Linked DNA regions of Homo sapiens. The protein of the gene in region 2 interacts with the protein of the main gene of each other region in a pairwise test. Each region holds a gene or a part of one and is shown on either strand. Other genes may lie near its edges.

What was found.
Region 1: the proteins of NDEL1 (region 2) and USP2 interact in binary tests that used the Homo sapiens proteins (3 or more experiments, as listed by UniProt).
Region 3: the proteins of NDEL1 (region 2) and CLVS2 interact in binary tests that used the Homo sapiens proteins (3 or more experiments, as listed by UniProt).
Region 4: the proteins of NDEL1 (region 2) and CWF19L2 interact in binary tests that used the Homo sapiens proteins (3 or more experiments, as listed by UniProt).

The regions. Positions count from the first base shown.
Region 1 is NC_000011.10:119,371,672-119,378,695, forward strand, and holds part of USP2 (ubiquitin carboxyl-terminal hydrolase 2), read right to left. Parts: exon of another isoform or gene 4,553-7,024; intron 1,851-4,552; 5' UTR 1,810-1,850; coding exon 1,036-1,809; intron 1-1,035. UniProt on the Homo sapiens protein: Hydrolase that deubiquitinates polyubiquitinated target proteins such as MDM2, MDM4 and CCND1. Isoform 1 and isoform 4 possess both ubiquitin-specific peptidase and isopeptidase activities.
Region 2 is NC_000017.11:8,430,875-8,438,886, reverse strand, and holds the start of NDEL1 (nuclear distribution protein nudE-like 1), read right to left. Parts: upstream 3,004-8,012; 5' UTR 2,842-3,003; intron 1-2,841. UniProt on the Homo sapiens protein: Required for organization of the cellular microtubule array and microtubule anchoring at the centrosome. May regulate microtubule organization at least in part by targeting the microtubule severing protein KATNA1 to the centrosome.
Region 3 is NC_000006.12:122,999,231-123,006,254, reverse strand, and holds part of CLVS2 (clavesin-2), read right to left. Parts: intron 1-7,024. UniProt on the Homo sapiens protein: Required for normal morphology of late endosomes and/or lysosomes in neurons. Binds phosphatidylinositol 3,5-bisphosphate (PtdIns(3,5)P2).
Region 4 is NC_000011.10:107,447,817-107,454,840, forward strand, and holds part of CWF19L2 (CWF19-like protein 2), read right to left. Parts: intron 6,757-7,024; coding exon 6,634-6,756; intron 1-6,633.

The DNA.
Region 1 (7,024 bases), on a different chromosome or scaffold from region 2:
TGCTGTTGTTTTCAAAATGTATTTGTCCTAGGAGTAGGGAGGGGTACATAAGGTAATGGAGGAGACACAGCATCCAGCCCTTCTGCCCATATGCTTGCCTGTCCATCTGTCCACCCGCCATCTACCCGTGTATCCACCCACCCACCACCCACACATCCATCCATCCATTCATCCCTGCAATCAGCAGGTCAGCCCCCATTGTGGGAGGCACGTGGCAGGGGATCTAGAGATAGGATTTCTTTTTCCTCCTCTGAGAGCTTGCCACCTAATGGGCACACTAATAACTACAGAAAAGGCAGATGTCGTCAGTGCCCCAAGAGAGGCGTGTGCGGGCATTAGTTGGCGAGCGAGCCCATGCCAGCCCTTGGTCAGTCTCCAGCAGAGCCTCTTCCCTCATTCCAGCTGAGGCAGGGCTGGAATAGAGGTATTGGATTGTCTCAAGCCCTAGATAAAAATTTCTCCCCTACTTTCTCCAAAGCCAGATGATAAGCATTGCTGTCTGATACCCTGGTCCTGAGTATGCCAGTGTCACTCAGAGGAGAGTCCCTCTTCCCCTGATGTCTTATGTCCAAATGTAAAGCCAGGCCTTGGGGCTAGGGAATAAAGCCTGCACAAGAGGGGAGATGCAACCACAGCAAGGAGGCCCTCCTGCCACAGGGTGCACTGGTGGTCTGGGCCCCCCCGCATCCAGCCCAGGTTGGGGCAAGGCCTGCAGGAGACACTGGCATGTCACATAGAAAAGGAGAAGGTGAGAAGAGTGGTTCATTGGGCGCAGCAGAGCATTCCTGAGAACACTACTGGACTATCCTCGAGTGCGCGGGCCCTGAGTGGGCTTTCTAGGCAGAGTGGGAAGGCCCCTCCCCTCGGCACGGAGCCCCAGGGGCACCAGATGTGCCAGGATGACTTCTCTTGTTTGTCTCCACCAGGAGCAGCCTGTCAGTCATCAGTCAGGTTGGGAGTCGAGCCCTCAGCCTGGCTGTTCTCCATCAGTGGCTGCCTCCCCAGCCTATCCCCGGTCCCCAAGGGTAAACTCACCATGCCGTCTCTTCCCGGGGAGCTGGAGCGGCTGGGCCCAGGGGCCTGACCCTTTCCCGTCTCCCACAGCGTGTAGCGGCCAATGGGTCGGTAGGTTGGGCTGATGATTTCAGGGACTCGTGAGGGAGGGGCCTGGGAGGGCACCTGAGATGCACTGCCCTTGCGACCATAGTTCTCCAGGTAGTCGACCAGGTATTCAGGGCAGCTGGCTGTCTGGTAGAGCCCCTGCAGGGTGCAGAGCTCCTTGCGCGTCCGGGCCAGCATGGGGCTGCGGCCCAGGTTCCTGGGGTCTATCCGGTAGCTATCTGAGGTCCGGAGGCTGGAGAAATCCCGGGCCAGGTCTGATTGGCTGTCCAGCTTCTGGGTTAGGGTCACCCCCTGGTCATAGGCATTGATGGGCAGGTAGCTGAGGCAGTTGTTGGTCACTCCATAAGGGAATCCGCTGCCCCCGCTGAGGCCACTGCCTAAAGGCCGCTCAGTACCCCGGGTCTGGCTCTCTGCCCGCTTACCACCCCCAGTGATGTCGGGTCTCAGCAGGGGGCGGCCCCGGTCATAGTCCAGGAGGGAGGAGGGGCCATAGGTACGGGGACGGGTGAGGAAGCTGCTGGTGGGGACCGGCTTGAAACCAAGTTTCTCCTTCTCCAGTAAGGAGGCAGCCAGATTGGCCCCATAGGAGGACGGGGTGTAGGCACCATAGCCCGACTTGGCATAGTGGGCATCTGTGTAGCGGGCCGATTCTGTGTAGCGCTTCAGGGTGGAGGAGAGCTGGGACATCCTTCAGGGTGGCACTCAGTGGGGACTGGGAGCCTCATGGGCTGAAAGACAAGGAGTGTAGTTGTCAGAGGGCCCTGCCAGGTGTCGGGCTCCCACAGACCTGCTCCCCATCCTCAGCTGGGCCAGAACCTCAGAGCTCCCAGTCCATTTCCACAAGAGGCAGGCTGGCTGCTGAGAAGCACACATGCACGCAGGTGTGCACAGGAGCTTGCTTGCACCTGTGTGTTCACACCTCGGTGAGAGTGCGAGGGATGAGGTGGCTTTTATATGCCACACAGGAAGTCAGCGCATCCTGGCCATTCAAAGACTCAAACACGCAAGCAGGGGCTATCTGACCTCCACAGCCCACCAAGCCGTGCAGTCTTCCAGGTCAAATCCCATTGCCTCAGCATCTGCAGAAACTCTTGAGCTGGGGGAATGCCACTGACCCCTGGGTTGAGAATGCTGGATATTTCAGGAGTTAAGACCACATCTGTCCCTTCTGACTTATGTGATGAGCAGGTGTCTTTTTGGAATCCTAGACTGTCTGTGCTGGAATGACCTGAAGATCATTTGGTCAGATCCCCTGTGAGGCCAAGGAGGCTCAGGGGAGGAAGTAATGGGGTGTGGGTGGGCAGGGGAGGCCGTGAGTGAGCATGCAACAATGAGGGGCCAGAACGTGGTCTCCAGACCCTTTCCCCAGACACCAGCACCTGCTGCATGGTCCCACAGTGAGGGACACTCACTTCACTGAGCTAAGCTTCTGTTCTAAGTGGAGTTAGGGCCCTGTGGCCTCCTAAGAGTTCCTCTACCAACACAGGCTTCCTCTACAAACACAGATCTCAAATTGGTCCTGGCGATGCTTGTGCAAAGGGGGCCCCCTACAGTCCCAAATCTTGCACTGCAGGTGGCATTCCCAGTCCTTCCCTGCTCCAGTCCTGCAGCTGGGGAGGGTCTAGTGAAGGAACACAGACACTGCTGAATGTGGAGCTTTGAGAGCCCCAGAGGATCATGAATTTTAATCTATCTGTTATACAGATGGGAAAAGTGATGCTTATTTGCCCCCGGCCACACACCAGCAGAGCCAGGACTGGAATCCAGGTCTTTAAAATCCTGGCCAGTGTTCTTTCTACTTAACCTGGAGTTACCTCCCCCGCATCAGATTTAGGGTCAGTTGGGGACCCCCAGAGGCCTTCCATCACCGTAAACGTGCAGCCTGTATCCAATGGAGCTGGAGTGGCAGAGGAGCAAGTAGGGTCAGACGCCTTTCCCCGAGGGCATCAGGGGCTCTTGGGGGGCTTTCTAGGGGGATGGAGCAGAGCCATCCAGGACTCTCAGAGTTGTGGGACTTGCCCTGTGATGGACTAGCTGGGTGATTTTGCACTAGTCACGTAACCTCTCTGAGCCCCAACTTCCTCATCTGTAAATGAGTAAAACCATCATCCTCATAATTCCTACCTCACAGGGCTGTTGTGAGGAATAAATGAGATAACAACACGTGAAGGGCTCCACAATGACAGTGGCTACCATCTCCTCCCCCAGCTACTGCGAGGCAGCATGGCTCCGCCCTCTGAAGGTCTGTGATAATATCAGGGCTGGCTGTCTCCCAGCCTGGCCAGCCTCTGGCCTCAGCTTGGGATGCCAGGCCTCCCCCTGCAGCCCCCAGCGAGAGAAACAGGCAGTGGGCAGACATCTGGCCACTCAGCAGACACTGGCTTGGCAACCCAGCCCATTAGGGCAGAGAGGAGCTGGTGCCAAACCCCAAATGCGAGGGCTTGGCAGAAAGCTCTAGAATCCCAGTCCACACAAGGCTTTGGGGTAGGTACAGGGGTGAGAGATGAGCAGGTGGCTTCCATATAGGCCCGGAACAGCATTCCTTGACCCTGCCTGAGAACTCCAGCAGTTTTCAGTCCAGGCTGACATCAGAAAGGCCTGGTCCATCTTACTGTCTAGCCTTTTGCCACCTGGCCCAGGGGGCCCCTGGCCCTTCATGTACACTCCTTTGCCCACTGTGCCCAGCACAACTTTCACCCCTTTCTAGGAAAAGGTAACTGGGGGATGATGTCACACAGCGTTAGAGGGAAACCATAGCGGGAGAGACAGACAGAGGCACAGGGTCGGGGTGGGGGCCCAGTCCTGCCCTATTTTGCTTTGGAGAACTCCATCAATAATGCAAAGTCAAAGAGACTCCAGGTCTCAGGAGCTGGGCTCTGGGACACCAGGCAGCCAATCAGATACAATCCCCCCAACAAGGGTATGAGCTCATGGCTCCTCCCCACAGCTCTCCCTCTCCCTCCCCCACAGTAAGGCTCTCAGGGAATTGGTATTCTTCGGGCAGCGCCCCAAGCCCGTGACATCCCTTGACCCTGCTGATGACGCAGAAGTGCTGGGGCCAAACGAGGTCCAGAGGACAGGGACAGACAGCTCTGAAAGGCTTTGGAGCCGGAGGTGGGGCCACATCTCTGGCCCACAGATTCCCAGGAGGGCTCCCAAATCCCCACTCTCCCTCCCATCTGGCAGGTGATTGCCAGACCCCTCCGCCTCCTCCTAGCAGCCCTGGGAGTCATGCCATCACTAATACTCCATGGAAGCTGCCTCTCGGCTCTGACTTCTAGCTACAGTTCCCATGCCTGCGGAGAGGGTTCCTACTGGGGCCGGGGCCTTCCACATGTCTCTCCCCTCCCGCAACCCCCAGTTTCACTCTCAAAGGTCCTAGCACCTTCCAGGTGAAAGCACAGCCTGGGTTGGTGCCCCTTGGCATTACCTGCACAGCTGTCCCTGGAGGCCACAGAATGCACTATGGGCAGGAGAGCGGGCTGGGGCCCTGGCCGGAGTCTCGCTGCGCAAGACAGGGACAGGACGGGCACTCACGTGGCTGCGAGTCTCCCTGTTGCCACAGGAACAGCCTGAACTGAATGGCCCTTTCATGGGGCAGTGGGAGGCAAGCCAATTGGCTGGGATCCCCCATACCCCTCCCTGCCCAGTGCGGGGGGCCCCTGCTGCCCAGCTCCTTTCACTGTTTACCCAGAGCTGGCAAGTACAGGCATGCAGCTCCAGGCAGCGCCTCTCCAGGTGTCCGCCACCTTGGACAATGGGGGCAGTCCCCTGCCCAGCTCCTCCTCCTGGCCATCTTCACTGAGGTGTCCTGACCCTTCCTTCTCTGTCAGAGATTCCTGTTGCTTTGCTCAGTTTCCCTCTCCTGGGAGGTGCAGCAGAGTTCCTCTGCACAGAGGCACTGGGCTTCCTGTCAGGGCATCTGAGCCAAGCAGCTGTCACCCCAGCTGGCTGGTGCTGATCACCTCTGAACCAGGCCCCAGGCATGTTGAGTACTTCACATGCAGCTTCTGAGTCCATCTTCTCTGCAGTCTCACATCAGCTCTCATCGGCCCTTGCCATGTGACGCATTCTTCTAGATGTGCTTCATACACAGAGCACCCCAAAAAGTCTTAGTGCAGGTTTAAGCTGGGATTCTTTCAGACATAAATGTCTCCAACTTACACACCTCTTTGGACAGATTAAATTATTTAAATTAAAATTTAAAAACATTTTCACAATTAAAAAATAAATATACAAGAAATTTAAATATGGAAACTTTCAAATGAAGTTTTTAGCATTCATATTTCTGAAGTTATTAAAGCTTAAAACTGCACTAAGGCTTGGGACACAGTGCATTAACTCACTGAATCCTCCCTGCTCCTTTAAGCGGTAGGTGCTGTTATCACGTCCATTTGCAGATGAGGAAGTTGGCGATGCTGGGAGTGATGTGGATTTCCCAAAGTCACACTGGGAGCAGTGGCAGAGCTGGGCTGGACTCGTGCTCTGTCTGCTATATCTGGCCTGAAGCCCAGACCCCTGCTTCACTCTTCCCTGGCTCTCCATGGGACGGGTCAGGACTGGGACCTGTGGGTGGGGTTTGAGGGAAGGACCACCACAGGATCCAGGTGTCCGTCATCCAGTAACAGCATGCGGTGTACAGACTCTGGCAGGAGCAGCCCTCTGGATTTTCCACTGCAGGTGAATGAAAGTGAAGCCAGGTGCAACTCGAGCCCCAGAACAATACTGATAGGCCGAGAGATGGTCCAGGAAGCCTCCATTTCACCCACTGTGCCAAGCCCCTGCATGTCCCCTGGCACCAGCATCTACCCCAGCTCGGGGCCTTGGGTCCCTGGCCTGGTTATGAGCAAGTCCCTAGCCTCCTACCCTGGCTGCAGCTTGGCCCACTCCTCAAGGTACCCATGCTGGGTGAGTCAGGGGTTAAAATGAACCCTGTCCCCGTGGGGCAGCCAACCCCTTTGCTTCAGCCACTGTCATTTCCTGTTGCTCACATGAAGGGCTCCCTAACCTGCCCAGCCAGGGGAGGGACTTGCTCCCCAGGAATTCCAGGCGCTCCTGGCCCTGGGGGCAGGGGATGGGTGATGCCCCACATCCCAGTAACCTTCATGGCTTCTCTCTGCCCAGATCTGCTTGGCTTTCTGGGGTGAAAGCCTGCTTTGCTACTGGGGCCTGGATAGAGAGCCTCTAGCTGAGTTTCAGAAGCACGCCTAAACAGGGTTAAGTCTCTTCCCTCCTACTCAGGTGCCCGGAAAAGGTGAGTGGGGAGTCCCAGCCAGTCCCGCCAGGTGGTTGGGAGCCCCCACAGTGGTGACCTCAGAGCTTCCTAAAGCCACTTGCTAACAGCATCAGAATGTGCTGACCTTGAAGGACAAGGTGGGTGAGAGGGGGCCCTGTATCCTTCCATCTGCACTCTGACCCTGCCTCCCAGCTGCTTGGGTCACCTGCTGCACTATCTGGGCACAAGTGTCTGGTCCTGGAGGATGGGATGAGGGAATCCTGGCAGGTGTAGAGGACATGGGTAGAGTAGGGGATGGGGGGGCGGGGGCATATTTATGCTCAAACAGTCCTTGAACTCCGCCTACTCCTCTCAGGCCCCAGGGCCTGGGCTGGCCTCCTCCCCTCCAGCCTGTCACTAGGCTTTGTCTATCAGGGGCTAGCACCCGCTGATCCACCAGCCTAATCCTCTTGCCTCCCCTGGCAGGGGGTCATCCAAGGGAATTTGGGTCCATTTCTCTTTCTTGTGCTCCCAGTAGTTACCCAAGAGCTGGGGGAGGGGAGGAGGTAAGATAAAGAGACTGGAGATTAAGGCAAGAATCCTGACTGGTGGAGAAGAAGTGGATGGGCCCAGGGCAGTTTCTATAGGGTGCTCCTTGATTTGGGGTTGTGAGTGGGTGGGCATCTA
Region 2 (8,012 bases):
TAACTGGTATTATCCAGCTCTATTGCCCTACTTTTACCCATCAGATTTACTCTTTTTAAAAATCAGATTCTGGCCAGGCACAGTGGCTCGCGCATATTAATCCCAGCACTTGGAAGGCTGAGGTGGGAATGTCAGTTGAGCCTGGAACTTCAAGGCCAGCCTGGACAACATGCTGAAACCCCATCTCTAACAAAAATACAAAAATGAGCTGGGTGTGGTGGCATGCACCTGTGGTCCCAGCTACTCGTGAGACTGTGGTGGGAGGATCGCTTGAGTCCAGGAAGTTGAGGCTGCAGTAAGCTGTAATCACTCCACTGCACTCCAGCCTGGGTGACAAAATGAGACCCTGCCTCCAAAAAAATAAAAATAAAAATCAGATTATTTACAAATAATAAAATTTGCTACCACTGCAGATACTCAAACGACAGTTTCAGGGGCTGTTATACAGTCTGTTCAGTTTGCTTCAAGTTACACTGGGAGGATGTGTTCACTTATTTCAAACTATGTAACTGGAGATATTCAGGCTATAGAAAGTTAGCTAATATAGAAAACATACTGCTAAAACAATGCTCTAATGGTACATCCACAATTTTCTGAAGCTAGAATGAAGATAGATAATTATGTATTATTGGCAGGGCACGGTGGCTCACGCCTGTAATCCCAGCACTTTGTGAGGCTGAGGCAGGCGGATCACGAGGTGAGGAGTTCGAGACCAGCCTGACCAACATGGTGAAACCCTGTCTCTACTAAATATACAAAAATTAGCAGGGCATCGTGGTGCGCACCTGTAATCCCAGCTACTCAGGAGGCTGAGGCAGGAGAATCGCTTGAATCCAGGAGGTGGAGGTTGCAGTGAGCCGAGATTGTGCCACTGCACTCCAGCCTGGGCAACAGAGGGAGACTCCATCAAAGAAAAAAAAAATTATTATTCTCTGCCCGCCCCCACCCCATCTTTCTTTAATACCAGATCTCAATACGGACACAGTCTCAAAAGCATGACAATTTTTACGTAAAGCATTATCATACTGTGTATGACCTTCAGAAATCTAGCAACAATCAACTCATTTGAGTTTAAAACAGCCTGTCCAAAATGCCTTTTATTTACAAGGAAATTATTCTTTGTACAATGGTAAGAAAATCTATTTTCAATGATATTGTTTCTGGTTAACAGTTCTAAAATGGACTGACGTTAGAAGAGTTCTTTCAGAACTCACTGTTGGCAATATATGCCTTTTTACTGAAATTCTACTACTCTCAAAGGTGACATTTACAGAATTTTTAACTCTTCAAAGTTGATCATAAACACGGTCTCTCTTTGATTCTATCAGACTTCTTTTTTACTTTATGGAGTGCTCAGAAACTTACGTCAGAAGTAATTTTAAGCTTTAGTAACCAAATTTATCCCAGCATGGTTTAAAATGAAAACAAAAATAAGTTGTTTTGCAGATGTCATGAAAGCAAGATCTAAGTTTTACTAAGGTTCCTACTTATTTTAAGCTCTTTATCCAACTTCAATTTATTTAATTTAAAAAAATCAAAAGAACTACAGCTTCAGAAGATTTAGCAACTTCTATCTGGATCAAGTCAACCTCTAACCAGGGCTGGCCAAAGGTTTTGTTTCTCACGCACTCTAATTTTAAATAACAATAATTTTAATAATAATTCAGAAGAAATACTTCACTTGGTTTCCCTTTACTTCTCTTCAGCCCATGACTTAACGCTGCACTGTGCCCATCAACTTCACGATTTAGCAAAGCAATTAACCAGCAACTCCTGAACAAGCTTCACAGGAAGATTTTTCTCATGACTGAGCAGCCGTTTTTATCCTAGGTGAGTTTTCTCAAAAATAATTGAGTAAGTAATCTACCAGCTTCTGGCATATCTTTGGCAAGTCACATTTTCTGCCTTGTTTTGTAGCTGAGAAGGGTATAAAAATCCCACGAAAAGAAACCAGAACTCCGAGCCTAGAAATGTAAATTATGATCCAAGCTAAACCACTCACCAGTTGGTTGAACCTAAGTATAAATAATTACCCCCATCCCAGCTCCATTTACCCATCGAAATGGCGATAACATAATCAGTTGCAACCACAAGGTGATGCGGTTAGAAAAAGATAGGAAGAAGAGTGCTCTGAAACGTGTAAAGGTGCTACGTAAATAGAAGGTAATAATCAGTGGTGACAGAACTCTCACCTCCTTTGCAAAACTTAAAGGGTCATCTCATGGCTTACAGCAAGAAAAGAGTCGAGCACAAGTAACCCGAGCCCGTTGGTGACACTTTGCCGAACTCCAGGGGGAGGATGATTAGCAGTTCCGGGCGGGAGTCAGGAGAATGCCAATCCGAGCCCAACGTGGGCTGCTCGCGCTCTCGCCCCCCATGGGAGAGAGGCACTGAGAGATCAAAATGCAACCCCGCTCCAAGCCACCCTCGCAAATGAAGGAATTTCGAAGAGGGGGTAGGAGGAGGCGGGCTGGGCGCGCCGCTGCCACCTCCGACTGGGCCACTCCTTGCGCCGCCAGCGCCCCAGCCCACGGTGCCACGTCCCGGCCTCCGTCACCGCCAGCCCTCACCCTACCCGGAACGGGGCACATCTTCCGGAGGCCACCGGAATCGTTCCCTTGCAGGCGCCCCTGGGGGGCCACACATCGGACCAGGGAAGGGAGGGGACAGTTAGAGCGGTTGGAACAGTTGCCCCCAGGCTGGCCGCCCCGGAACCCGGCCCGGCCCGCCCCGGCGGAGCCTCAGACACGGCCCCGGGCCGGGAAGGCTCCCCAAGGGCAGGCCTCGGCGCCGCCGGCCCAGCGCAGCCCCTTAGGGAGCGGCCCCGCGCTGCAGGCTCACCTCCAATGTGTCAAAAGCGCATGTTCGCCGCCGCTCAACCGACGTCTCCCCTCCGCCGGCCCGGCCAGGCCCGCCCAGCCGCTCGGCTCAGCTCCCCTACGCAGCCCCGAGCTCCACTCAGCGTACCTCCGCGCCCGGCTCCTCCCCGACACGTCAGGGACTGCCTGGGTGTCCGAGGCCATTCTGTGACGCACGGGGGCGGGGCTCGGAGCATGCGCGGCAGCGCACGGGTATGCGGGGCGGGGTGGGGCGGGGCTGGTGTCACAGGGGGCGGGCCAGAGCCCGGCGCGCTGACGCCAAGCTGACGGCGTCCTCTTGCGCAGGCGTCCTCTTGCGCAGGCGCTCCTGGACTCTGCGACCGGCTGGTTTTGGCTTGTGCAGTTCCCTGAAACTGCTATTCGGGAGAGTGGTGCCAAGACGGATGGGAACCTGCCTTCAGTTTTCTGGCCACCAAGGCCCTTCAAGTGTCCATGTGTCTGTGTTCCCGTTTATAAAATGAATCTCGGCTCATAGTTCACCTCCGAGTCCATTCCCCCTGCTCGAACACCCAATGGAACATCAGGAGCATTCTAAGCATCACTCTCACAAAGCTCTGTGTTGTTTTTACAGAACTTCCACTGTTTACATTTTGTATTTGTTCTCATCTTCCTCCAGTAGAATTCTAAGTTCTATGAGAGCTAGAACCTCTTATGCCTTGCTCATCCCAACAGATAACTTGGTTCTAGGCAAAGTGGACGCTCAAATATTTGATGAATGAATGAATGGATTCGTTGGCACAAAGGGGATTTTATATTTGCCCATTTATATATTGTATATATCTGAGCATATATTCATTTTTGTATACATGCGTGTACGTGTGTGTATGGGTGTGACTTTCTCCCCTCCAGGTCCCCCAAGAAATGGAGTCCTATGTGTATATATATACCTCTTACAATCCATCTTGGTTTTTGTTTGTTTGTTTGTTTGTTTGTTTTTGAGACGGAGTTTCGCTCTTGTTGCCCAGGCTGGAGTGCAGTGGCGCGATCTCGGCTCACTGCAACCTCCGCCTCCCAGGTTTAAGCAATTCTCCTGCCTCAGCCTCCCTAGTAGCTGGGATTACAGGCGCCTGCCACCACGCCCGACTAATTTTTGTATTTTTAGTAGAGACGGGGTTTCACCATGTTGGCCAGGCTGGTCTCGAACTCCTGACCTCGTGATCCGCCCGCCTCGGCCTCCCAAAGTGCTGGGATTACAGGCGTGAGACACAGCGCCCGGCCCCATCTTGCATTATTAATGTTTATATATTTTTAGTACGTAAACACACACGTGTATGTGTGTGTGCGCGCGTGTGTATTCCCTAGCGGACTTGGAAGCAAGCTGGAGACGATACTAGCCCAAAAAGGAGGGAAAGAGGGATAGGCAACTTACATAGGGAGTGGAAACTTAAAGGAAGAGATACATTTTAAAAACAATTTTAAGAACTTTTGCTGTATAATGTACAAGGTAATCCTTTCCTTTAGGAGATGGGGTCTACTGTGTTGCCCAGGCTGGTCAAGAACTCCTGACTTCGGCCAGGCGCTGCAGCACTTTGGGAAGCCGAGGCGGGCAAATCACCTGAGGCCAGGACTTCGAGACCAGCCTGGCCAACATGGTGAAACCCTGTCTCTACTAAAAGTACAAAAATTAGCCAGGCATGATGGTGGGCACCTGTAATCCTAGCTACTCCGGAGGCTGAGGCAGGAGAATCGCTCGAACCCGGGAGGCGGAGGTTGCAGTGAGCACCACTGCACTCTAACCTGGGCGACAGAGTGAGACTCCGTCTAAAAACAAACAAAACAAAACAAAAAAGAACTCCTGACTTCAGGCAATCTTCCCACCTCAGCCCCCCACAAAGTCCTGGGATTACAGGCACCAGCCTCCATGCGGCACGCAATGTAATCCTTTCCAATTTCAGTGCTTTTAGGATTGGATTTGTGGGTGTGAACACAAAAATAATGTGTAAGACATGCCTCAAGGTGAAAACAAAGTGAGCCTAGGAGGCCCAGTTTATATTTTTGAGGGCGATGGACATAAACAGGAACAATGCAAGATGGATTGTAAGAGGTACCCAAATCAATAAAGATCAGAGAAGGGATTAATGGGGTTTGTGGGAAAGGTAACATATTACATATGCCTATTATGAATAATATTATGAATAATATGCATATTATGAAAAAACTATGCATGGATTTCCAATTTTTTTTTTGCACAGGGCCAAGCATGGTGGCCCATACCTGTAATCCCAGCACTCTGGGAAGCTGAGGTAGACAGATCACTTGAGCCCAGAAGTTCGAGACCAGCCTGGGCAGCACAGTGAGACACCTGTCTCTAAAAAAATAAAATAAATGTTTGCACCAAAATAAATTTGTTCTAACTTGCTATAACATGTCTGAACAGGATCTAGCTTGAAGCACCAAGAAAGATAAGAAATCAGTTTGAAGAGAGTCCCTATCAGAACACATATTCTACAAAATTGAAGCAATACAAAATACTAAATTTATGGTGAAGCCTGGGTGGAAAAATGGTGGAATCATTGACGCTTTATAAAAGTGTAAAAGGACAAAGCCCCAAAAGAAGTCAGCAGTTTACAAATGGATAATTCATTTTAAGAAGAAACATGATGATGTTGAAGATGAAGCCCACAGCAGCAGACCCTCCACATCAATTTGTGAGGAAAAAAAGTAATCTTGTTCATGTGCTAATTGAAAAGGATCAATGATTAACAGCAGAAACAATAGCCAGCACCACAGATATCTCAACAGATTTGGCCTACACAATCCTTACTGAAAAATTAAAGTTGAGCTAACTTTCCACCCAATGGGTGGCAAAACCATTGTGCCCAGGTCAGCTGCTGACAAGAACAGAGCTTTCAAAATTTCACACATTTTAAACAAGTGGGATCAAGATCCTGAAGCTTTTTTTTTTTTTGAAGAATTGTAACCAAGAATGAAACTTCGCTTTACCAGTACAATCCTGAAGACAAAGCGGTGGCTACCAAGAGATGGAAGTAGTCCAGTCAAAGCAAAGTGAACCAGTCAAGAGCAAAAATCATGGCAACCATTTTGTGGGTTGTTCTAGGCATTTTGCTTTCTGGAGGGCTAAAGAATAATAACGTACTTATTACGAGAGTGTTTTGAGAAGATTAGCCAAAGCTTTAGTGGAAAAATGCCCAGGAAACCTTCATCAGAGAGACCTTTCCACCATGATAAAGTTCCTGCTCATTTCTCTCATCAAACAAGGGCAATTTTGCAAGAGTTTCAGTGGAAAATCAGTAGACATCACCTTACAGTCCCAATTTGGCTCCCTCTGAAGACTTTTTGTTTCCTAATCTTAAAAAATCTTTAGGCCAGGCGCAGTGGCTCATGCCTGTAATCCCAGCACTTTGGGAAGCCGAGGCAGGCGGATCACGAGGTCAGGAGATCGAGACCATCCTGGCTAACACGGTGAAAACCCGTCTCTACTAAAAATCCAAAAAATTAGCTGGGTGTAGTGGTGGACGCCTGTAGTCCCAGCTACTTGGGAGGCTGAGGCAGGAGAATGGCATGAACCCGGGAGGCGGAGCTTGCAGTGAGCCGAGATCGCGCCACTACACTCCAGCCTGGGCAACAGAGCGAGACTCTGTCTCAAAAAATATATATATATTGGCCTGCCATTAAATATATATATATTTATATTTATATTTATATATAATATATATATTTATATATAAATATATATATATATCTCTTTAAAGGGTAGCCATTTTTCTTCAGTTAATAATGTAAAAAAGACTGCATTAACATGCTTAAAATCCCCAGATCCTCAATTCTTTAGGGATGTACTAAATAAATGGCTGATATCATGGTTACGAAAGTATCCTGACCTTGGCTGGGCACAGTGGCTCACACCTGTAATCTCAGCACTTTGGGAGACCTGGGGCGGGTAGATCACTTGAGGCCAGGAGTCCAAGACTAGCCTGGCCAACATGGTGAAACCCCGTCTCTACTAAAAATATAGAAAAATTAGCTGAATGTGATGGCATGTGCCTGTAATCCCAGCTACTCAGGTGGGTGAAGCTTGAGAACCGCTTGAACCTGGGAGGTGGAAGTTGCAGTGAGCCAAGATCATGCCACTGGGTGACAGAGCAAGCCTGTTTCAAAAAAAAAAAAAAAGGTGTCTTGACCTTGAGGGAGCTTACGTTGAGAAATAAAGTTTATATCTTTTAATTTTATCTTTTAATTCCATTTTTCTATGAACTTTCCGAAGTTCTCTTGTATGCACTGGCAACTGTGCTAAACACTTGGTCTGCTTAATTTCATCCTCACAGTAATCCCATGAGATAGGTAGTGTTATTCCCATTTTTTAAATGAGGAAACAGACTCAGCAAGATGAAGTTTCCCAAAGTCTCTCAACTAGAAAGATGAGGCCTCAAGCCTCAAACCCACCCTGTTCGAATTGTCTAACTCTCCAGAAAACACACTATTAACAACTATTATATTGCTACTCAAGAAGGGGGAGTATTAGCAATTACTACCATGTATTGGGCTAGAGCACTGTGCTAAGTGCTTTACATGCTTTCCCTCCCTCAGTCCTCACAATGAGCCTGTGAGGCTGTGATTATTGCTTCCATTGTACATATTGTAAACTGAGACCCAGAGGAGCTAGGGCTTAAACTCAAGTAGGTCTTACTTCAAGGCCAGTGGCCTGGGACAATGGACTGGTACAGCTCGTTCAGGCTCTGGGGCTCTGCTTCCCTGGGTGAAGCTGTGCTCTGGCTGATGAGATCACAGACAGGGAGGGGATGAATGAAGGCTTTCCTGTGGACCTGGTGCCAAGACAAAACAGTCCTATCCCAAGAGGAAAAAAATTAATAAGGGCTGCGGCTCTCTCCCTGCCTCCTGGCTGAGGTGCTGGGAAACGCACTGAGTCATCTAATGGCAGGCCAGGCCCCTCGGAAAATGTTGGCATCATCTTCCAAGCTGCCACCCCTCCCACGCGGCCTGGACCCAAAACTGGTGTTTGTCAGGACTGGACTATTGGCCTTATCTTAATGAACGGGCTTTGCCTGGCAGGATTCTAAGAGGTGCCGAAGGGCCCAAACTGATGTAATTCCTTCCCCCTTGTGGTTGAGCTTTCTCCCTGGGAGATGGGCCCAGGGGCTGGGCATGGCAATT
Region 3 (7,024 bases), on a different chromosome or scaffold from region 2:
GGTACACTCCGATGCTTTATGTTCACTTAAATCTAGGGGAACATTCCCCTTCCTTTTCACCTCACCTAAGTTCTGCCCTCCTCTGGGCCCGCCACCAGCTTTCCCTGCTCTGCAAGATTGTCTTGACCTGCTGGAGACCTCAGCGCCCTCTCTCTCATATTCTGAAATTATAGTGCTTCAGTGTTTGTTCTATGGCCCCAGACATATAAGCTTAGCTTAAAAACTCTTTCACTGTTTGATACCACTTTCTATCTTCAGCACCAAATACTGTTCGCTGCACACTGTGGGTGCACAATAATATATGTTAAAATCAAACTATTTCCCAAGGGCATAGACCATGCTGCTTTATTTTACCTATATCTACATTTACAGTCATCAAAGTGCCATAATGGCATCATTTAAATATAACATTCACTTAAGGCTTCCCTGTCAGCCCAATACAAAACATGCTCCTGGACCAGAAAGAGGACAAGAGCCTTGTCCTGCCACACTGTGGAGGGGTGGCACCCTGCCTGCAATCAGGAGCCCCCTCAATTTTTTAGATCAGAGAAGCTTCTTCTCCTGCCTCTGGCCATGCAATTTTTTTGGTGACTACCTGACCCATGCTTCTTTGCTGGGGTTCTCAGCATCTCCTCCTCTACCATAGCTTTCAGTCAGTGCAAAGATCAACTTAATGACAAATAGGTCATATCCCTCTACTTTTCAACCTTTTCAGCATGACAAGAAAAAACTAGCATCTTGGCATCGCACTGAGCAGCATAACACCAGCAATTTCTCTTTGTCACTAAATCAATCAGCCATTATTAAATTCTTTATTTAGGCTTCCCCCACCCCTCAGTTTTCATTAAGCCACATTTTCTAATGTCTGAAGCACTTCATAGTAGAAGGTGCTAGGGGGAGGGGAAAAAAGGAGAAAAATTACCTTTATTAATGCCTCAGGGTATTATTAGTGGTAAAGCTGATGAAGCCTTCTAGGTGTTTTATATTACTGAGTGGTAATAATAATAATATGTCTATCTGGGTAATAGTTTAAGATTTCCAAAGCAATTTCAAATGCATTATCTTAATCTCAAAACAATTGCAAAATCTCTGAGCTGGATTTGTTCTTATTATTTTACAGATGAGGACAGAGGGTCTCAGAGAAAATTAAACAGTTTGCTTTAAATCACCTTAGGAAAAAAGGGGAACCTAGATTCAAAGCCAAATCTTTCTGATACCACATAGACCAGTGCTCTTTCCCTCTCCATGGTGCCTCCTACTCAGAACAGAGTTTGATGAATAGATAATTGGTTTTTTTTTTTTTTGTTTTTTGTTTTTGTTTTTGTTTTTGTTTTTGTTTTGGAGATGGAGTTTTGCTCTTGTCGCCCAGGCTGGAGTGCAATGGCACGATCTCAGCTGACTGAAACCTCCACCTCCTGGGTTCAAGTGATTCTCTTGCCTCGGCCTCCCAAGTAGCTGGGATTACAGGCGCCCGCCACCAGGCCTGGCTAATTTTTGTAATTTTAGTAGAGACGGGGTTTCACCATGTTGGCCAGGCTGGTATCCAACTCCTGACCTCAGGTGATCTACACGCCTTGGCCTCCCAAAGTGCTGGCATTACAGGCGTGAGCCACCGTGCCTGGCCTGGTCTGCTTTTTCATGGTAGCATAATATATATGTCAGAAAATAGGAGATCAGGAAGTCAATATCCTGGCACTCTCCAGCCTCACCACAATAGGGAGCTTTGGTGGAGGAAAAGCAATAAGACATCCTTAGGACTCAGAATAAGAAATGGCTAAATCTACAATCCCTGGAATAAATATGAACTCTTGAAATTTCATCTGTCTGGCTTGTATTACTGAGCACAGAAGATTAGATGTCTGAGCCTTGCTTTAATTTTACTGCTGTGGGAATGTAGGTGAGTGAGAACAAGAGAATCGTTGGAAATGAAACATCTGCGGGCAAAATGTCTTTCTCTGAAGAAGACGGGTAAAGAAAAAACTTTTGCATCTATTGCCACCAAAAAATAAAACAAAATAAAACAGAATTGTGCTGGGAGAATACAAACACATCAGAAAGCAATTATTTTTATCAGGGCCAAGTACTCTAAGCAAACATCTAGTTAACTAAAGTCTTTGACTTCAGAAAGTTTATTCTTCCATCTTAACGTTCTGTTCCTAATTGCCTGTTTTGTTATATTTAATCGAGATTTTCTAAACCATAGATGGAATTATCTTTAATTATCAGAATTTGATTTTTTTTATACATTTGCCTTTCCCTAGATTTAGGTTGGTAACTGTCTACACACACACACACAAAAAGCGACTAATTCACTTACCAGTTGTATGATCATGAGTGAAGTACTTAATTGCTACAATACACACAGTAGAATTATTTTGAAATGAATAATGAATAAAATGGAACAATAAATGTTGAATTCAGTTAACCAAGCAGGCAATGTCTTTCCTACACAACACTGAGTAGCCCACAGCTGCCCACCTGTCCCCAGCTTCTAGCACTGGTAAACAGTGTCCTCATTAGCTGCATATGACCTCTGATAGTTACTCAGCTTTACATGTTTTTTCTTCCCAGAGAGGTTACATATTGCTTAAAAGTACAAAGTATGTGTCTTTATTTGCCCCCAGTACCTACTAAAATGCTATGTACATAACAAATTCTCAAAGTGTATTTTTTTCAATTAATTTGACCAAAATATTAATCACTCAGTTTGTCATATGGTATCATAACGATCCCACATACAGGAGTATCCTTTCCTTCATGTTACGATAATAGTGTAATAGCCACTTACTATAATAGTGAAATAGATGTACCTGCCCTCAGTAAAGTAAGAGAATTTAACATTTCCCACAGAAAGGAGGAGATGTATTAATTTACTAAGGATAACTTCTTAATATACTAACTATTGGCTCATGTTTTAAAATATCTTTAAACATTTCTTTTGAGGCATCCTTTCAGGACACCGTAGTAACCTCAAGTCCTTTGCTTCTCGACCTTCTTTAAAGTTGATTTTGAAACATGAAAATAGCTTGGCTCAGGCCAGCCTTAGTCAACGTCCTACTGAAGGTTGGCACTTGTAGTTTTTGCTGTTATTTCGGGATTATTTTACTAATTATTGCATAATTGCCCCAGTTTTTGGAGATTGTCCTATTTTTGCAGAGATTCATCACCATATTCCTCCAACATTTCTCAGGACAACTTTTTTTCCTCCCCTATTTGCCATGATATGTACCAAGATTATAGTTTGGAATAAGTTGCAGTTAGCAGAGGATTTGTTAAAAGAGTTTCCCTGAAAGGAAGCAAGATGGAAGCTCTGCTGGGAGAGAAGTCCCATGGAATACATATCTGCCATTTGTGGTTTTGCCCTAACCAGTATCCACCCAAAAGATGGCAAAGCCATGCCTCCAGAATTTTTACGAAAAGGACTCCTAGACTCCAGACTCTGCCAGTAGGTATGACAATGTGAAGCAAAAAGCTGGGAATTATTTAATATGTTAATAAACTGAGAAAAGAATTCTTGAAAAATTAAGCTGAAAAATTAAACTTCTTATTTTTTTGCTTTTTTTGTTGCAGAGTAAAAATATTTCTCCATAATTATCTGGATAATTGCCCTGGACTGTTTTAATCTATTCCTGTTCATTTTATTTTATTTTATTTTATTTTATTTTATTATTTTTAGTACAATTCCAGAGATGAGTAAAGCTTTGTGATTGGCATTAATGCCCATCTGTGTAGTCTATGGCTATGTTTTAAATTGTAAGTTATCATCACCATAACCTTCTATTCTGAACATTGGCCATATTATTTTAGTAAATGCAAGCATAATCATAATTCAAACTGAACCACAAATAGCAACCATTCATACAATGTTTGCTTTTGAATGAAAAAGCCACACAATAGGAGCAAACTGACAAGTTTTTTGGGCAAATTCCAGGATAAGTTAGAGTATCATATCAATGTCTGACCAATCAGTTTTCTGCCCCTTCCAGAGCTTCGCTACTGTAAGTGGTAATCAATGTCCACTATGATAAGCCAAAGACCATGCAAGGTGGCCAGTGCTTTCTGGATTGCCACCATATTAAGAATCATTTTGGTTCTAACTGTGTTTGTTTTCGAATGGCCATTAACTAGATTCCAGATAAATGGTTGTTTGCTATACTAAAGTTCAGAGAATTACTGAGAATTACTGTTTCTAATGACTATTAACCATATTCCAGATAAATGGTTGTTTGCTGTACTAAAGTATAGTGAAGTACATACTTCTAATGAGATCTAGAGAAATAAAATATGACTTGCAGGCTGACAACTTACAGGTGAACTCTGACACTTCCTATCATCATTATGTTTCAGGTGACACAATTTCACTCATGAATATCTCCAACAATTATGTGACAGTGGATTTCAACTTCCTAGATACATGCTTGCATGCTCTAGGACCTAGAATGCCATGTACTTTCTTTCCAAGCTTCCTTTTCTCCAGCAGTGTTAACCTCTGCTAGCTTTACGGCACATTATCCTCACACCTGTTGATAAGATCCTGCGAACCATTTGAAGGTATTTGCTGAGTCCTAAGCAGGTCACTACCATTTAGGAAGGAAAACAATATGCAATACATGGAGGACGAAGGCATCTTTGTGATGCAGTGTAACAGTCAAATAGTTTTTAATTCCATGGCATTTACTTTTGTTGTCAGAAATTATGTAAGGCAATCTAAAAGGAGATAAAATTATATGAATCTTTTCCAAGGTACAGCTCAATAAATGTAACAGGTCATCTGGGCTTGCCCTATTGTTTTTTGGAAGAACCACAGGCCACACTGCAACTCATTTTGACATTTGAGTATTTCCATTTTTTTTTAGATTTGTTAGAAGGTGGGTACACTGTAAATATTAGGATTTTATGTTAGTCTTCTTAATGATGCCATGTCTCTCAAAAAGGCTTTGGAAATCATCCAATTCTTTACAATAACCTAAAAGTAAACTACACTAAATTGCAGCAGAAACAGACACTATTTTATTTATAGTCACTGTCTCACACGGTTTTACTGTTTTCAGTGTCCTGAAGAGCACAGAAAACTGTCCTACAAATTTCATATAGGAGAAAGCGTATATCAAATAAATCTCTACTCAGAATTCTTTTTATACAAATGCATAACTCAATTCAACTCAAATATTTATTGAGCATCTACTCTAGTTCAAGTGCCGTACTAAATATAATAACATGACAGTCTTTTTGTTAGATCAATTCTATTGGGGGTCTTTACGAATTGTTTCAAAATTCATAAAATCTTGTTTTTCCTTTTGTAGTTGGAAAATTATAAATAACCTGTTTTCCAAATAAACTGAGGCATTTTCTTCCGCCTCATTTCTAGAATTTATCTATGTAATCATCTACACTTCTCACACACTGTTTCTTTAAAACAGGCTACTTTTTAAGAAAGTTGTTGAAAGCCAGGTGCTTCACTTAACAACTCAAAGAATGTTGCCAGGATTATTTTCAGACATGCAGTCTTCTGGAGAAATCCAGGTAGCTTTGGATTGGTGGGATCAGGGCCTGGAAGGTGAGAACATCTCACTCACAGAACAGGGGAGGGATGAGGGATAAGAGAAACTAGCACATGGCATTATCCACCTAACAGAGCAATAATAGTAACTTAAACACCTAGGGAAAGAGGCAGACTTCTGTAGGAGTCAAGGAGCCTTCGGGGTAGAGGAAAGGGACTCAGGCTAAGAAGTGTTGGTAACATCCTGGCATTGGCAGAAAGGCAGCTGTCCTTTGAGTTTCAGAGCAGGAGCCAAGGACGTTTTTATGCACATGCTCCAGTGATAAAGGTTTATAGAGGGTGCAAAGGTGACAGATCTGTTTGTCTACTAGTCCCTGTCATTGGGTTATGTAGATTTAGGATAAAAGGAAGGTGGGAAAGAAGAGGGAATTATTATTTTTTTAATATAGGAAGAAATTCAACTGAAATTTTGACTAAGCTCTAAATCACTTGTATACCTTTTCACCTTGAGGTGCGATAATTTCTTGATTATACCTGTTTATTTCCAACCATAGAAATAGAATTCATAATTACAAGTCTAGACATCTTGACAGGAAATTTCTACAGAACACAGCTTCTCATTTTGTTCTAATACACATTTTAGTATTTAAGATTATGTGTAAGTTTAATGAAATGTAATTCTATATACCAATTATTAACTCCGTTTCCATTATAGATTTCTAGGGAAAGAGAATTTGATTACTAGTTGTCTGCCCTTTATATGGAAGCATGAGATAGACAACTAAAACACAGTGTCTCTAATAAATTCAGAATTATCACTTTCTCATATATATGAAAACTATAAGTGACTTTCATCTTAATTAGGTTTACAAATAATTATGAATATTAGTTCACTTATAGAAATTCATGAAAATAGGTCTGATATATATGTATGCCTCTCTGAATGCAATCTGCCCCCATAATGGTATCTCTAACAGACTTCGAGATTTATATAAATATAAAATTTCCAGGTTCCATTTCACTATAGCTCAATTAACAAAGTTCCAATCTGACATACAGAATATTAGTTTTTTCCTTGAATAAAATTTTTCAGTTCTGTTATACACAGTCATTGATTTGCATGATCCTACAATGTACTTTTAGGATGAAAAGAAAACATTTTTAAACAAAAATTGTGGTCAATGAATAAAAAGTTGTAATTCTTTAAAATTTTCAGCTACCTGATAAAAAGTGGAATAACATCTCTATAACTGGCCAAAGTAAGTAACAAAACTCCATTCCCTCTGAATGGCTAACTCTGTATGAGTTTCTTAGCATTATGAATCTTCAGGTAGTAGTTTGTCTTTCTATTTGCCTAAAAAAATTGGAGTGATTGTCAACCTAGAATTACAGGGAAAAAAATCACAATAAAATGAGAGAAAAAATAATTAAAAATATTAATTTACATTCTAAGATACCAAGACTCGGAAGCCTATCTGGAAATCTCTATGATCCATAAGCCCTCTTGGTAACTGTAAATGTCTT
Region 4 (7,024 bases), on a different chromosome or scaffold from region 2:
ATCATTTAATTGAAACAGAACAGGAAAAAACAAGAGAAAATGAAACAGCAAACCAAGACTTTAACACAGCTATCATAAATATGTTCAAGGAAGGGAAAATGTAAAGATAATGAGGAGATAAACTGAAAAACATTAGAAAGATCCAAACGAAACATCTAATGATAAAAAAAAAATACAGTACCTGAAATGAAAATGTCACTGGATAGGGATAACAGTAAGCTAGACACAGCAAAAGAAAAGGCCAGTCGGCCAGGCGCAGTGGCTCACACCTGTAATCCCAGCACTTTGGGAGGCTGAGGCAGGCAGATCACGAGGTCAGGAGATCCAGACCATCCTGGCCAACATGGTGAAACCCCATCTCCACTAAAAATACAAACAATTAGCTGGACGTGGTGATGAGCACCTGTAATCCCAACTACTCAGGAGGCTGAGGGACGAGAATCACTTCAACCCAGGAGGCGGAGGTTGCAGTGAGCTGAGATCACGCCACTGCACTCCCGCCTGGCAACAGAGCGAGACTCCGTCACAAAAAAAAAAAAAAAAAAAAAAAAAGGCCAGTAAACCTGAAGCTCACGACATAGCAATAAAATATACCCAACCCAAGGCATAGAAAGGAAAAAGGCTAGAAAGTAAGTGAACACAGGCTCATCAACCTGTGAGACATTATTTTAAGGAGACTACCAAAATGAGAGGGAACAGAAAAAAAAAATACTTCGAAAAAAGCCTGAAAGTTTCATATTTGATGGAAACTGTAAACTCACAAATCAAAGCAGCACAATGAACCTAAGGCAGATGCTACACTCTGAATGTTTGTGTCCCCCACCAAATTCTTATGTTGAGATCCTGACTCCCAAGACAATGATAATAGGGGCTGAGGCCTTTGGGAGATGACTGGGAATGGGATTAGTGCCCTTATAAAACATAGCCCAAGAGCACTCCCTTCTGCCATATGAGGTTAGAGTGAGAAGACAGCCATCTCTGAGGAACTGAACCCTCATCAGACACAAAGTCTACCAGCGCCTCGATCTTAGACTTTCTAGCCTCCCAAACTGTGAGAAATAAGTTTCTGTCATTTATAATCCACCCAGTTAGTTTTGGTATAGCAGCCCAAATGAACTAAGACAGTAGAATAAACACAAAGAAATCAATACCAAGACATATCACAATTGATTCACTGAAAAATAATGATGAAAAAAAAAGCCCTAAAAGCATCCAGAATAAAAAGGCACACTACATACAGAGAAAAAATATTACAATGACTACAGAGTTCTCAATATGTACAATGCAAACCAGAAGACAATGGGATGACATTTTACAGTGCAAAAAAAAAAAAAAAAAGAAAACACTATAAACTTAAAATTCTTTATCTAGCCAAGTATCTGAAAAATGAAGATTGCTAGTAGGAACTTCTGAGTTTGTGGTAAAAGAAAAAAAGAATGAAGATGAAATAAAAGAAATTTTCAAACAAAAGCTGAGAGAATACAATGTCTGCAAATCCATATTATAATACATGTTAATGAAAGTTCTACAGACAAAAGGAAAATGGTATTAGACAGAAATTCAGACCTACATAAAATAATAAAGAATATCAGAGATGATAAATCTGTGGGTAAATATAAAAGACTTTCTTCATATGTGTAACTTATTTAAAAGATAACTGACTAAAGTATAAATAAAAAGAATGTATGACATTAAAAATTATAAACAATGTGGGTTTATAACATATGTAGAAGTAAAATATATGACAACAATAGCAAAAAATATGGTAGGAGAAAATGGAAGTATATTTTGGTGAAAGTCTAATTATAAAAGTAAAATTATATATTATTTGAGAGTATGGTAAGTTAAAATATGCATAAGACTTAAAGCAGTCATTAAAAATAAATAAGGTATACCTAATAAGCCTACAGCAGATGAAATGGGATGCTAAAAAACACTCGATCCAAAAGACAGGAAAAGGAAGGAACAAAGGAAAAAAGAACAAAGAAAAAATAGAAAAGGAATAACAACATGGTAGACTTAAACTCATCCATATCAATTATTACATTAAACATAAATAATCCAAACCAGTACTATTCAAAGAATTTTTCTATATACTGTCGAATATAGTAGCCACATAAATTTGGCTGATATAATTTTAATGAATTTTAACAAAAAATTTAAAAGCCATAAACAGCTAACAGATTAGAGAGCACAAAAAACATCTAATTGAAAAGTAAGAGACGTGAGCCAAGATTGCGGCACTGCACTCCAGCCTGGGTGACAGTGTGAGACTCCATCTCAAGAAAAAAAAAAAAAAGGAAGAGGCCAGATGCAGTGGCTCACATTTGTAATTCCAGCACTTTGGGAGTCCCAGGTGGGAGGATTGCTTAAGGTCAAGACTTTGAGACCAGGCTGGGCAACATGGCAAAACCACATCTCTACAAAATATATATAGATCATAGGCTAGAATATAAAATGTCTCAAAAACTTTTTAACAACTGAAATTATACAGAGTACAATAAAATAATAATTAAATCCAAAGTCAATAACCAAAAAAACCTAATAAAATCCACAAATATCTGGAAATTTAAAAACTCATATATATATATCCTGGACGTCGAAGTGCACACCCGTAGTCCCAGCTTTCAAGAGGCTGAGGTGGGAGAGTCACTTGAGCCCCAGGGGTTGAAGCTGCAGTGATCTACTACACTCTAGCCTGGGCAACAAAGCAAGACTCTGTCAATCAATCAATAAATCAATCAATCAATAAAATAAAAAAGAAGAAATTGATAGGCGAGATAAAAAAGCAAGACCCAATTATACACTGCTTACAAGAAATACACTTTCAATATATAAAAAAGGTACATTAAAACTAAAAGAATTTTAAAAAGACGATGAAAACACACAAAAAAAGAAAACTGAAGAGGCTTTATTAATATGAGATACAAGAGACTTCAGACAAGAGTATTACCAAAGATAAAAACGAAAACTTCGTAACAACAGTCAGTTCATCAAGGAGCTGTCTATGTACCTAATAAAGCTTCAAAATTACATAAGGCAAAAACTGACAAAACTGAAAGCAGAAATAGGTAAAATCCACAAAACAATTAAGAGATTTCAATACTATTTTCTCAGTAACTGACTGAACAGGTGAACAGAAAATCATTAACACTAAACTTAATACTATTAGTCAACTTTCCCTAATTGACATTTATAAAACACTATACCTAACAATGGCAGAATACATACTCATTTCAAATACATATGGAATTTTCACCAAAATAGATCATAGGCTAGAAAATAAAATGTCTCAAAAACTTTTTAAAAACTGAAATTATACAGAGTATAACATAATAATTAAAATCAAAGTCAATAACCCAAAAAAAAACTAGAAAAATCCACAAATATCTGCAAGTTTAAAAACTCTTATATATCCATGAGTAAGAAAAAGTAAAGTAAAAAATATTTTGAATGGGACAGCAATGAAAATATAACATCAAAGTTACGTAGAGATACAACAGTGCTATGAGAAAATTTTATAAAATAAATACACGTTAGAAAAGATTTCAAATCAGTGGCGATACATTCATCTTAGAAAGTTAGAAAAAGAAGAGCAAATTAAACACAAAGTATTCGCAAAGAATAAATATAGTTTAAATCAATGAAATAGAAAACACACAACCAGAGAAAATTCAAGGAAACTAAAAGGCAATAAAGAAAGATTAATAAAACTGATAAGCCTCAAGACAGACTGACAGAGGAAACAAACAGAAAATAGAAATTACCAAAATCAGGGATGAAAGAGGGGTATCACTATGGATTCCGTAAACATTAAAAGAACAAAGGAAATATTACAAATAACTTTATGACAATAAATTTGACAATTTCTATGGAATAAATTCCCAGAAAAACCGAAATTACTAAAACTAACTCAAGAATAAACAGAAAGTATTTAACACAACTATTAAAGGAATTAACTCTGTCGTTAAACCCATTCCACAAAGAAACTCCAGGACCAAACCGTTTCACTGGCAAATTTTAACACTTATAGATGCAAAAAAAGCACTTACCAAATTCAATACTCATTCAAGATACAAACTCTCAGAAAACTAGAAATAAAATGTCATTTCCTTAATCTGAAAAGGCATACATGAAAGTCCCACAGCAGACATCATGCTTAAATGTAAAAACCTGAATGCTTTGCACCTAAGATAAGGAAAAAGGCAATCATGTCCACTCTCACCACTTCCATTCAACACTATTTTTAAGTCCTAGCTACTGAAATAAGGCAACAACAATTAACAAATAAAACAGGCACAGAGACTGAAAAGAAAAAAGTAAAAGTCTTTTTCACACATGACATACCATTTACCTAGAAATCCTAAGAAATCTACTAAAAAAGCTACTAACACTAGTATTAGTAATTTTAACATGGTGATAAGAGGCAAGGTGAATATATCAAAAGCAGGTTTTTTTTCACTTTTTTCTTTTTTTTCTGATCCTAATGTTTCAAGTCACTTCTATAATTACATACTAGCTGTAAACACATTTAATTTAAAATTCCACTCACGATAGCACTTCCAGAAAACAAAATGGAAAAAAAATAACAAACGACATGTAAGATCTCTACACTAAAAATTTCAGAACATTGTGAGAAAAATCAAAGACATAAATGGATAGAGAGATGTACCAAGTGCATAATGGATTGAAAGAATATTTTAACATATCTATCTCCCTAAATTCCTTCCAATAGGGAAAATTCAGCCTTTTCAACAAATGATGCTAGAAAAACTGGAAATCCACGTGGGAAAAAAATAAACTGACACTACACAACATAAATAAAAATTATTAATGGATTATAAATAAGCAAAAAAGCCAAAGCTATAAAACTTCTAGGGAAAAAAAATAGGAGGCCAAGCATGGTGGCTCACACCCGTAATCCCAGCACTTTGGAAGGCTGAGGCAGGAGATCACTAGAGCCCAGGAGTTCGAGACCAGCCTCGACAATATAGTAAGACTCCATGTCTACAAAAACAACTTTTCTGTACTACATCTGTAGTCATAGCTAATTGGGCTGCTAAGGCAGCAGGATTGCTTGAGCCCAGGAGTTTGAGGCTGCAATGAGCCATGATGGTGCCACTGCACTCCAGTCTGTGCAACATAGTGAGGCTCCATCTCTAAAAACAAACAAAAAACAAAAAAATTTAATAATAACATAAACATAGGAGAAATCACAATCTTGAGGTGCGCAAAAATTAGGATACCAGAAGCACTAAGAAAAAATGATGAAAAACAAAAAAGAAAATATTTAATAAATCAGATTTCACAAAGACATGGAATGCCCTATGGGGACTTAAAATGATGCTCTACATCCTTGTTCTTCAGAGAAATATCACACGAGACATTACACAGTAGAATAGCTAAAAATTACTAAGACTGACAATACCAAGTACTAGCAAGGATGTGGAATTCCTTGGTGACTCCTAGTGCTAAACTTGCCTCAGAGCCAATGGACAGGTGGTTGGGGGGCAACTGGTGCAGCTAAGGGAGTGCTTACACCACCTCTCCCCCAACCCAAGGCTGCACAATGTGCAGCTCCAAAAGAGACCCTGTCCTTCTGCTTGAGGAGAGGAGAGAGAAGAGTAAATACAGGACTCCATCTTGCATCTTGAATACCAGCTCAGCCATAGCTGGTAACCACTAAAGAGCCCTTAGGCCCTGAATAACCAGCACCAATAATCGGGTACTACACTGTGGCCTTCACTGTGTATCTGAGACTTGCTGGATTCAGGTGAGACTCAGCACATTCCCAGCTGTGGTGGCTATGGGGAGAGCCTCCTTCTGCTTGAGAAAAGTAAAGGGGGCTCTGTCTTGCGCCTTAGGTACCAGCTCAGCCACAGGGTGGTAGAACACCAAGAGGGATCTTGGGGTCTCCAGCCCCACGCCTTGGCTCTTGGATAGCATTTCTGGATCTGCCCTGGCCCAGGGGGTGCCCACTGCCCTGAAGGGTGAGTCCCAGGCCGGGCAGCTGACTGAAGAGTTCTTGGGCCTTAAGGGAACATCAGTGGTAGCCTGCCAGTACTACCTGTGGGTCTATGGTGGTGGCTACAGGGTGAGGCCCCTCTGCCTGTGAAAAGGGAAGAGTGGGAAGGACTGCCATTCATAGGTTGAATGCCAGCTCAGCCACAGTTCAATAGAACACCAGGTACAAGTCTAAGGTTTTTGACGCCAGTACCTGGGTCCCTGATGGCACCTCTGGACCCACCCTCAGGCCTGGGGGAACTTGCCACCCTGAAGGGAAAGACGCAGGCCTGGCTGGCTTCATCACCTGCTGATTGCAGAGCCCCAGGGCCTTGAGTGAACACCAGCTGTAGCCAGGTAATTGTTACAGCAGGCCTTGGGCAAGATCCAGTGCTGTGCTTAGCAATAATTCCCAAATCATATCCCTATCCTCTTAGCCTTTCTCTGAAATTCAAGATCAACATTTCCAATATTTTCTGGACATCTCTAAGTAGATGTATCCCAGATATTTTCATATCATAACTAGTAATATATTTTTTACGTTTTCTTGTATTTTAACTTCCCATAAGTTACACATTCAAATAAAATGTTCTCAAATAGCTGCTTTGATTAATTTTAGTACATACTTACTGATGAGCTATCAGATGACTCATTGTTTTTTTCATATTTCTGTTTCTTGCTCTTTTTTTTCTTTTCTTTCTTTGCTTTTTTTGAATGCTTGTCTTTTTTCTTCTTTTTCTTCACAGAGTGTTCCTACAATCATTTTGAACAGGCAAGAAAATAATTTAATTTCATCTTAATTTAAAAGGATGTATTCTGAGAGAAAAAAAATAAACCACATTCTAAAAAACTTTCAATCTCTGATGAAATAAGACCAAGAATATGTCTAAATAAATAAAATCTTTCAGGAAATCTTAACACACCTTCTATAATATATGCACTATCAATAAATCATATAACTGAGACTTCTTACCAGAAAAATACTGGGAAAATTTTGGCTTTATTTGTAGATTAATGTGAC